Regions from separate parts of the Homo sapiens genome. Here region 2 is linked to region 1. The links come from fine-mapping of genetic effects on gene expression. Tissue or cell type: whole blood. Region 1 holds a variant in brackets; the other region holds the start of a gene. All regions are shown on one strand. Distances are from middle to middle.

Region 1 (5,149 bases):
TCTCTTCACGACCCTTCACGCTGGTGAACTCTTGACTTCCTTTCAAGGAAGGCATTTCGTGTTTCCTTCTGAGCGTGTCATCCACAAGGCTGAGAAAATATTTTATTTGCTATAAATTTATGTTAATAGTTCAGAAGTTTAGCAATGGTGTTTGGGACACGGCACGTCTGCCAACCTTGATGAGTGAGAGTAAGAAGGGCTGCTACAGACTGCACATCTGCAGAAGGGCAGAAGAGCTTCTCTTCCAAGTGCCCGAGCCCAGGCCCCCAGCCAGGAGCAAGCCCTGGCAGTGCCTCTCCTCCGCCTGTGTGGGGCTAGGCCAGGGCCCAGCTGCAGCTGTGCCTTGGTCTTGTGTGGCCACCCATGCCAAGGGCAAAGCCCACTCCAGAAGGAATCTCCTGTGGCAGAGCTCTGCGTGCTGTGGCTGCCCACTCTGAGAGGAGGCCAGAGTATTTGTTAAACAATGTTCGTTTTATTTGAGATCACCCTATCATAGGAGTGAACCCTTAAAACCCTTGTCTAAGCCAGTGTGTCTTAAATAACACCCAAGCCAAGAAACAGCTATAATAATTCTGATTTTTTCCTTTTGTTCTAACAAAGATTCAAACTAGTGTTTTATACTTTCAAATGAAGAAACTTCATTTAAAAAGTCATAGACAAATGTTCAAGGCCACAATTTTAAGCAGATTATTTCACAACCAACAGAATGCAGGTCGTGAAAGCAAAGACGGAATCACAGCCCTCCTCCTCCAAGTGGAATAGATTAACACCAAAATAAAATCATCCCATTTCACGGACCCTTGATTCCTCAAAAGAGACTGGGCTAAAGAACTTTCTTTGCATCAACCGATGTCCAGTCCCAGGAACCCAATTTAGGAGCTTAGGAGACCACAGAGACATGGCTCATGATCAGTGAATCTGACTCATACTGTCTAATAACTTTAATTTCTCTGCATATTAACTTGGTTTTTGTTTCTCCTTCCTTTAGGAGTTGACTAGCTTTGCTTATGCTCTCAAGTTGATCCATACAGTGCCAGATTATACCCTATCATAAGAGATAGGGTCCCCTGAACACAAGAAGTCATCTCCCCTTCTGGGTAGGACTTTGCACCACATTCTCTTCCCTCTGCCTGGAACATACCTCCCAACTGCTTTACTCTCTTAAATCTCACTCATTACCATCTAAAACCATTTTCCTTTCTTATTGCCTGTTTGCTGTCATCTCCCACAGGACTGTGAACTCAAGAAAGCAGGAAGTATGCCTCCCTTATTCATCACTGGGTCCCCAGTGCTTAGAACAGTGCCTGGCACAGAGACGGGGCTCTGTAAAGATCTGCTGAATGAACACTTTATCCTCTTACTTCTTATCCTTCAAGCCTCAGATGTTCCCCCAGGATGCCTTCTTCGTTTCCCCAGACTAGTTCAAGCTGCACCTCCGACGTGCTCCCACAGCCCCTGAGCTGCCTCCCTGCAGACGCCATACCTGCCGTGGCTGCTTGTTTGCTGAGTAGCCTCTCCCACTGAACCCTGGGCAACTTGAGGTCAGGGACCATGCTGTTTACTGTTACAGTGAATTAAAATGTCTAAAACGGTGTCTGACCACTAGCACATACTTAACAAATAATTTTTATAAGTGAATAAACATTCTCCTCTTTTTTCTTCAATTCCCTTCTCTATTTTGGTTAGTAAAACTATATGCATGCTTATACATTTAGACCGTACTTCAAAAGTATCTGAGATAGCCACATATACATACACACACGTATATATAGCATAATGTTTAATCTAATATATAGAAATGAGAGCACTGACAGGAAAAAGAGGGAACTGAGAACTGAAAAAATATACATTGGTTTTTTTTTTTTTTTTTTGAGACGGAGTCTCGCTCTGTTGCCCAGGCTGGAGTGCAGTGGCGCGATCTCGGTTCACCGCAAGCTCCACCTCCCGGGTTCACACCATTCTCCTGCCTCAGCCTGGGACTATAGGTGCCCACCACCGAGCCTGGCTAATTTTTTGTAATTTTAGTAGAGACGGGGTTTCACCACGTTAGCCAGGATGGTCTCAATCTCCTGACCTCGTGATCTGCCCACCTCGGCCTCCCAAAGTGCTGGGATTACAGGCGTGAGCCACCATGCCCAGCCAAAAAAAATACATTGTTAAATCAATCAAAGAAACACTCCAAGTCTTTTGCCTGAATATTCTTGGCAATTTGGACAACGGTTTGATGTACCACTCCATCCTGACATGTACAAATTTGCTGATGAATTGCCTCCATTTCCTTTTGCCTTTTTCATTCAATGTCAAAGTTATCACACATTCCAGAATAGATTCTCAAGATCATTTATCATCTTTACTTTCCTTGATAACAGCCACATAATATACAAAATCAGAAGTCAGTCCTTCTGTGGACCAAATGTGGTGTGTTCCTGGGGGCGGGAGAAAGGGGAGAGAAAAACATTCCCTGGGGTCATTATCCTTGCCTCCAAATAGACTAAAAACTGCAAGAAGCTTGAAGGCAAGAAAAGTTGGGGTTTCCCTAGAGTGCCCCCACAACTCCTGGCTCCCTTGTACAAGGTCCTCATCACTGCGAATGGTCGCAGGTGGCATAGGGAGGGGAGAGCACAGGCTGGGCCATCAGCGGGGCCTGGTCTGAATCCTGGGTTACTTCACCACACACTCAGTTTCCTCATCAGAAAATGAGGGTTAAAAAAATTAACGACTCAGTGAGTTTTTGAGGACTAAGTGACACATAAATTACCCAGCACAGCGCCTGGCATGGGTAGGTGCTCAGTAAACATGAGTGCCCTGCCCCCACTTCCTGGTTTCTAGGCT[T/C]GTGAAGCCAACTCTACCATCACTGCCAGGAATTCAGCTCTCCGCAGCGAGACCCACCCCGCCTTTCTTCTCCTTCCTCCACCCCTGCGCCCGAGTACTGAGAAGAATGAAGTGAGAGCACGGGCCCTCCTGGCACACTTCTGTGTCCTCTCCCAAAAAATCCAGCTCAGTTCTGTTCCCCAAAGCCTTCGGCACAATGCTGGTCACACAGCTGCACCCACCACTGCCGCCCTGTAAACAGGACTGATTAAATGAAACTGTCAGGTGAATTCACCATTTCCTTTCCTTTATTTCTACTTAACAGCAGAGTTTGGTGTGACTGTACATCACTGCATGAGATTTTCCTATATTCTAGGTTTATTTTAGTTATCACTTACTGAGTTTGAAACATCACAAATAGAAAATAATATGAAATTTTGTCTGTAAGTTCCAAAAGCAGGTCAGCAGATCAAAAGAAGTACAAATAAATCACATATCTCTATGTCCATTTTTGCTAAAGAGACTAAGGCTCTCTAACCTGATTCAAAGTCAGGTTTAACTCTAACGTGGCCAATTTCTGGAGAAAATGCTCAGAACACCCTGCAATGGGACCGAATTACAGGTTGTTTTTGTTGTTATTTCATTAAACTGAACTTTATTGATGCTTTCATAAACACCTACAATGATGTTTCCAAATGTTGACTGCAGAGATGTTTCTAGTTTCCAACTCATTTATTTGTATTGCCTCCTTTCATCAGATAAATGAAGATTCTGAGGCCAAAGGAGAATTGCAGGGAAGATAAATCCTGAAAACTTTTCAAACATTTCAGAATGCACACTCCCTTTGAAGAGTAAAAAAGGATATTTGTCGCCCTGGCTTGTCCCCAGACCTTCGGTGGAGGGGGTGGAAGCGGTTCCTGGATGGCCTCTCCACCAGCCCGTGATGGCGGGTTCCCCGAACATTATCAGCTTGGTGAAATGACGGCTGCAGAGAGAAGGGAAGAAGAGTTGGCCTCCAACCATGAAATTGACACTCACCCTCAAGAACAACTGATAACAACAGGAGATGAAAGGACCGATTTTACAGTTTTACTTATTATACATTAGTGGGCCTTGGGTCAAGGTAAATAAAGTAGTATATGGAACTATTTCTTTATAATAACCATAAAATAATGACAAATAATCTGTAGTGTGTTAAGAGGAAAGCTGAAAGAATAATAAAAGTTGTCATGCAATTGGGGGAGGAGAATCAGAAGACGGTGAACTCATATACTAAATCCCAGAAAACTAGAAAGGACACTTTGAAATGTAAAAGAGGTATATTAAAGAAAGAAACTGGCAAGCCACGAGGCACCTATTTGTTCTGCACAGTGTCTTTTAAAATTTTTGATTGAATTCATAATGTTTGAAAATTCAGACTTGAGGATTCTAGGGAAAAGTCAGAATTTTTTTTGTTTGTTTGTTTTTTGAGATGGAGTCTTGCTCTGTTGCCCAGGCTGGAGTGCAATGGCGTGATCTCAGCTCACTGCAACCTCCGCCTCCCAGGTTCAAGTGATTCTCCTGCCTCAGCCTCCCAAGTAGCTGGGATTACAGATGTGCGCCACCACGCCCAGCTAATTTTTGTATTTTTAGTAGAGACGGGGTTGCACCATGTTGGCCAGGCTGGTCTCAAACTCCTGACCTCAGGTGATCAGCCCACCTCAGCCTCCCAAAGTGCTGGGATTACAGGCATGTGAGCCACCGCACCCACCCATAAATCAAAATATCTTGGCCACAATGAGCCGCACTCATCTCAGGCTCAAGTTGAGCATGGCTGCTCCCTGTAGATGGGACACCCACTCTCTTACTATGAATCCTTACACACAAACCATTTCACTGACTCATCATTTTAGACATTCAGAGTGTGTAACCCCTGAGTTAAAGAGGAAAAAAGGAATGCTATGTAAATACAAGTGGAAAACATACAAATCATCAGTCCCTAAATGATACAAATGAAAGCAGAAACAGATTGTAGATAAATTCATGGTCAATAAATCCAAAATCCTTTTTAAAGAGATGCTTGGGGTACGTTCTTAACATTTTTGAGACTGGTATCACAAAGGGCAACCTTTTTGGTTGTCAAAAGCCAAATCCTAGGCTGGGCCAATAAATCTCACATAATGAGGCAATGTGTATACATTGTGCAATAGATGTGCTTGTGAAATATAGAAAACAGATTTTCTTCTCCCATCCCCTCCAGCATTAAGGTGTTACTGACAAAGAAAAATTGTATATATTTACACTGTACAACATGATGTTTTGATATATGTATACATAGCAAAATGATGAAATCAAGTTA
Region 2 (5,149 bases), 66 kb after region 1:
AGGGATATTTTAAAGAAGATTCATGAATTGGGTGAAAGATTGGATCCGCCATAGGTATACAGACATATACAGTGCATGTATTTGTACATAAACAATGTACAGTATGTATTTAAAAACACATAACAACACAGGCCCCAACACTAATCCTCAGCTTTCACCCACCCATTCTTTTCAACGTGCTCTGAGCTTATCGAGTTCATCTCTGAATCTAACCAAGGTCACAGATGTAAATGCCAGTGGATGCCAGGCAGGTAAAAAATGAGTGAAGCTGATAGGGTATAAGAAAACATTTTCTTGAAATCTTCAGCTTCTTTCTCTCTATATATATATTTTTTCTCAATGTGAACAGAAATGTAAGTACAGGAAATATTTCACTTTTTCCTTAACTTCACTGAAAGAAAACACCATCATGAGTATAAATGGCAACTGTCACCTAATCTCCCCTTGGGGGACTGTGACAGAGAGTGGACGGTGGCAAACTAGAGTTCTTACTCCATTTGAAAGGGAGCTCAGCTCAGCTCCCTTTCATCATCACCCAGCTCCAGCAGGTCGGTAGCTGTCATGTAGGAATTCAGAATTAGTGTTACCAGGTCTCCCAATTTTTAACATATATAAATAATAATAAATAAATAATACGGAAATTTGGATTTTGTGTGGAAGTCTTCCAATTTAAAAATTCTGGCAACAGATTCAATAATTTTTCCCAAACACTGCGCTGGCCAAAAAATAATGTGTCTGCAACTCAGCTGGTTTGCAACTCTGCTCTCAGCTCTCCTTCAAACTGTCTCCCCCGCCTCAGTCCCCCAGAATCTGCAGATCCTCCCCCATCCTCCCGATGGTCCTCCAAGGTCAGCATTCAGGATCCTCAAGGCCAGCCCCACTCCTGCTGACCCCCCTTCTCTGCAACCCTGCGCGGACACTCCGGTTGGCTCTCCATCCTCCACTGCCTCACTCAGCGGTTACCTAACCTCTCCAGGTGTTTGTCCCGGCTCGCGCCTTACTCATTCCTCCAGGTCCCTCTCCAGTCACCAGCGACGCTTGTCAGTTCTCACTAAATATCCCGGGCCGAACAAAGTAAACTGGACCCGATAAAGCACCTCCAAGGAGTAAAAGGAGCAGAGCCTCACACTCGACACGGAATCCCGTCGTGGTTCCAACAACCCGAGCCACCCCAGGGCCGGGCCCTGGATGGACTTGTGCACAGAGCTCCCCCCACGAGCGCGTGGGACCCTGGGGTGCCCGCGGCCTTCCACGCCGGCAGAACAGCAGGGCTCGATGGTGGGGGATGTTCGGAGCGACCAGAAGCCGCGCCGCGCCACCCGGCCGGCCTCCGAGCTGTTTGCGATTTCCTCTCGGGGCTCCTCGTCCTCCTCCCCCTCAGGCCGCCCTCGCACGGCCGCCCGCCTCCACGGGCTTCACCCCTGCCCATCTTCCCGCACACGGGGCCGGGCGACCCTCCCACCTCAGCCCGGGATCGCGAACGGCTAGCGGGTGTCGCCAGGCGGGGAAACGCCGAGGCCGCGGCCGCTCCGGTCCCCCTCCCAGCCGCCGGTTCCCGGGCGCGGCCCCCGCCCGGCCCCGCCATCGCCTTGGCCCCGCAACCTCTCACCCGCCGCGCGGGTCCCGCCCGCGGCCGTGGCCGCCCCCGCCCGCGCCGGCCCGGGCCCTCACCCGCGACAGGGTGAGGTCGGTCATGAGCTGCTCGAAGGCCCGCGTCTCCTCGGCCTGTCTCTGCGTGTGCAGCGCGATCTTCTCACTGAACTTCCGCGGGTTGGCGCTGCCCGAGCCCGGCGAGGCGGCCATGGCGCGGACTCTGCGCGGGCAGAAGCGGGAGACGGCGGCCGTGGGGCCTGTACCTCGGCCCACCCGTCCGTCCACAGGCCGCCGGGGCCGCCGCCCGAAGCCAGTCGTCCGGCGCGACCCGGCAGAGGAGCCGCCGCGGCCCCGGAGCCAGCGAGCGGCCGGGAGCGCGCCGAGGTCCGCCCCCGTGCGCCCGGCCCCGCCCCACCCTCGGCGGGGCCCGCCCGGCCTCCAGTCTGCCCCGGCCCCACGCTCGCGGGCTGAGGGCTGCTCCCCGCTTCCCGGTCTGGCTCGGGACCCGCCGCCGGCGGCCACCTGGAGGGACCCCCGTCAGCCCGACAAAGTGGCCCCGGCGTACGGGGAACGCTGGGGTGCCACTCCACGGAGACTCTCCGACCCAGGGATGGCCTCTGCGTCTACGCGACGTGGAGAACACAGCCTGTGCCCGCATCCCCCCTCCCCCAGCCAAATTACGAAGATTTTCTTCTCCAGGTGGAACCTGGGCGACCGGACCTCGAGCAGGTCACCTCGGGCCCCCGCAGGGGGTGCGCCCATTTTGCCTGGGGCCTAACGTCTGCCCGCCAGCCCTGCCGCTCCAGGCCCCCGGCCTCCAGCCGCTGGTTTCCTGACCTCTCACACCCACCCCTCCCCGCTCCAGTCAACCAGAGCTGTATCTCGGCTTTAAAAACTGCCTCCTATTCTGCACAAACTACAAACACCATCCAGCCCTGCTGCAGCCTTGGCTCCATAGCCCCGGCCCCCTTTCCAGGTTCTTTCCAAGTCTCCCTACGGCCTCTCCACTCCTGTGGCAGCTTCAGCAGGTGCCAGCCCCACCTTGGGAAACCAGCGCTCAGCCTCAGCGAATTTCCCCTTCTTTTGGGGGAGTGAATGGATGTCTTTCTCTGTCGCCCGGTCTGGAGTGTAGTGGTGCGATCTCGACTCACCGCGGCCTTGACCTCCCGGGCTCAAAAGATCCTCCCACCTCAGCCTCCCGACCAGCTGGGACCACAGGCGGGGGTCACCACGCCCGGCTAGTTTGTAAATGTTTTTGTAGCAATGGGGGGCGGGGGTGGGTCTCGCTATTTTGCCCAGGCTGGTCTCGAACGCCTGGGCTCAAGCGATCTGCCCACCTCAGCCTCCCAAAGTGCTGGGATAACAGGCGTGGGCCACAGTGCCCGGGGAGTTTCCTCTTTGGAGTCCAGAAGCTACTCTCAGCATAAATGTTGATGTGCACAAAGATGTCCCGGGGAGCCCTGAGCGTGTGTCAGTGTTCTGTAAAGAGGGAAATATTAGAGGCCTACGGAAGAGTACGGAAAATAATATTAATACTACCCACGCCCCCCACTATCAAGATTAAACAGACATCAATACATTTTGCTGCATGTACTTGGGATTTATTAAAGACATACAAAATTAGTCATAACGACGGCCCCACTCTCATTTCTTCTTCCGCCCCACAGATAGTCACCGTGCTCAAGTTGGTACATATCATTCCAGTTTGTGTTTTTATACTTTTATTACATATGATGTAGAGATCCAGCAATGCTATATGGAATACCTAATTTTGTTTTTAAACTTTACAAAAATGACACCATACTGAATAATCATTTTGCATCTTTTTTCATTCTCCATTATGTTTTCGAGATATATTTGTGTCAATTCATTTATATGATAATATTCCATTATGTTTTTCACCTGTCTCTCAGACATAGCCTATAACTGGACTTTTTAGAAAATGTATTCTGAAAATATATCTCTGTTAGCTAGAATTTAGCTATTTTTATTAATTATAATTGGATTTTTTTTTCTGTTGTATTTTGTGTTATTTACCATGCTTTTTTTTTGTTGTTGGTTTGTTTTTGAGACGGAGTCTTGCTCTGTTACCCAGGCTGGAGTGCAGTGGCCTGATCTCAGCTCACTGCAAACTCTGCCTCTTGAGTTCAAGTGATTCTTGTGCCTCAGCCTCCCGAGTAACTGGGATTACAGGCTTGCGCCACCATGCCCGGCTAGTTTTTTTTTTTTTTTTTAAGACAGAGTCGCGCTCTGTCGCCCAGGCTGGAGTGCAGTGGTGCAATCTCGGCTCACTGCAATCTCTGCCTCCTGGGTTCAAGCTATTCTCCTGCCTCAGCCTCCTGAGTAGCTGGGATTACAGGTACACGCCACCACGCAGGCTAATTTTTTGTATTTTTTGTAGAGACGAGGTTTCACCATGTTGGTCAGGCTGGTCTCAAACTGCTGATCACAGGTGATCCACCTGTCTCGGCTTCCCAAAATGCTGGGATTGCAGGCGTGAGCCACCGCGCCTAGCATTTTTCTTTACATTTTATTTCTGCTTTTCTGTTACATTGTTTGGGTCAAGTTTCAGAGAACAGAACCATTCTAGATGGTTTAAGTACAAAAGAATATATTACAGGGTATAAAATGACTTCCAGACTTGTTTGGAGGGCTGAAGCAACCGACTCCAGGTTGAACTTTGAGGAATGACTTTGAGAGCTATGCTGCAATACTGAGCCACCAAAGGAGACACTGCCTCTTTTGAAATCAGGAAGCCATCTACTAAATTGGAAAGCTGTCTCTACACTTACCAGCTCTTGAACCATACAGGTATCATCATGATGAGAAGCCACTGCAGAAATATCAAGCATCGGCCAGGTGCAGTGGCTCACGCCTGTAATCCCAGCATTTTGGGAGGCCAAGGCGGGCAGATCGCCTGAGGTCAGGAGTTTGAGACCACCCTGACCAATATGGTGAAACCCTGTCTCTACTAAAAATACAAAAATTAGCCAGGTGTGGTGGCATGTGCCTGTAGTCCCAGCTACTCAGGAGGCTGAGGCAGGAGAATTGCTTAAATCCAGGAGGGGGAGGTTGCAGTCAGCCAAGATCACACCACTGCACTCCAGCCTGGGCCACAGAGGGAGACTCCGTCTCAAAAAAAAAAAAAAAAAAAAAAAAAAAGGCCAGGCTCAGTGGCTCACACCTGTAATCCCAGCACTTTGGGAGGCCGAGGTGTGGGTGGATCACCTGAGGTCAGGAGTTTGAGACCAGTCTGACCAACAAGGTGAAACCCGGTCTCTACTAAAAATATAAAAATTAGCAGGGCGTGGTGGCAGGCGCCTATAGTCCCAGCTACTCAGGAGGCTGAGACAGGAGAATTGCTTGAACCCAGGAGCAGAGGTTGCTGTGAGCCAAGATCACCCGACTGCACTCCAGCCTGGGCGACGAAGCGAGACTCCGTCTCAAAAAAAAAAAAAAAAAATCAAACACCTCCACCACAGCACTCCCCAGCATAAATAGCACACACAGACTTCACTTCACCTCCACCTTATACATCTCATGAGAGGAAATGATT

What was found. PIP is the estimated chance that this variant, and not a neighbour inherited with it, causes the effect.
Region 2: it holds the start of CRTC3, and the variant in region 1 is fine-mapped to the expression of CRTC3 in whole blood (INTERVAL, PIP 0.97).

What each region holds. Positions count from the first base shown.
Region 1 is chr15:90,592,283-90,597,431 of GRCh38, reverse strand. It overlaps CRTC3 (CREB regulated transcription coactivator 3), which reads right to left. Exons shown (of 15, transcript NM_022769.5): 3 at 3,677-3,796. LOC124903555 (a long non-coding RNA gene) reads left to right here and starts at 1,454. Exons shown (of 2, transcript XR_007064758.1): 1 at 1,454-1,541; 2 at 3,570-4,072. RefSeq lists enhancers at 1,403-1,472, 2,868-3,368. The variant T/C (reference allele first, on the strand shown) is at 2,833.
Region 2 is chr15:90,526,726-90,531,874 of GRCh38, reverse strand. It overlaps CRTC3 (CREB regulated transcription coactivator 3), which reads right to left and starts at 1,952. Exons shown (of 15, transcript NM_022769.5): 1 at 1,672-1,952. The coding sequence starts at 1,803. RefSeq lists an enhancer at 849-1,008 and silencers at 1,399-1,578, 1,599-2,348, 2,449-2,498.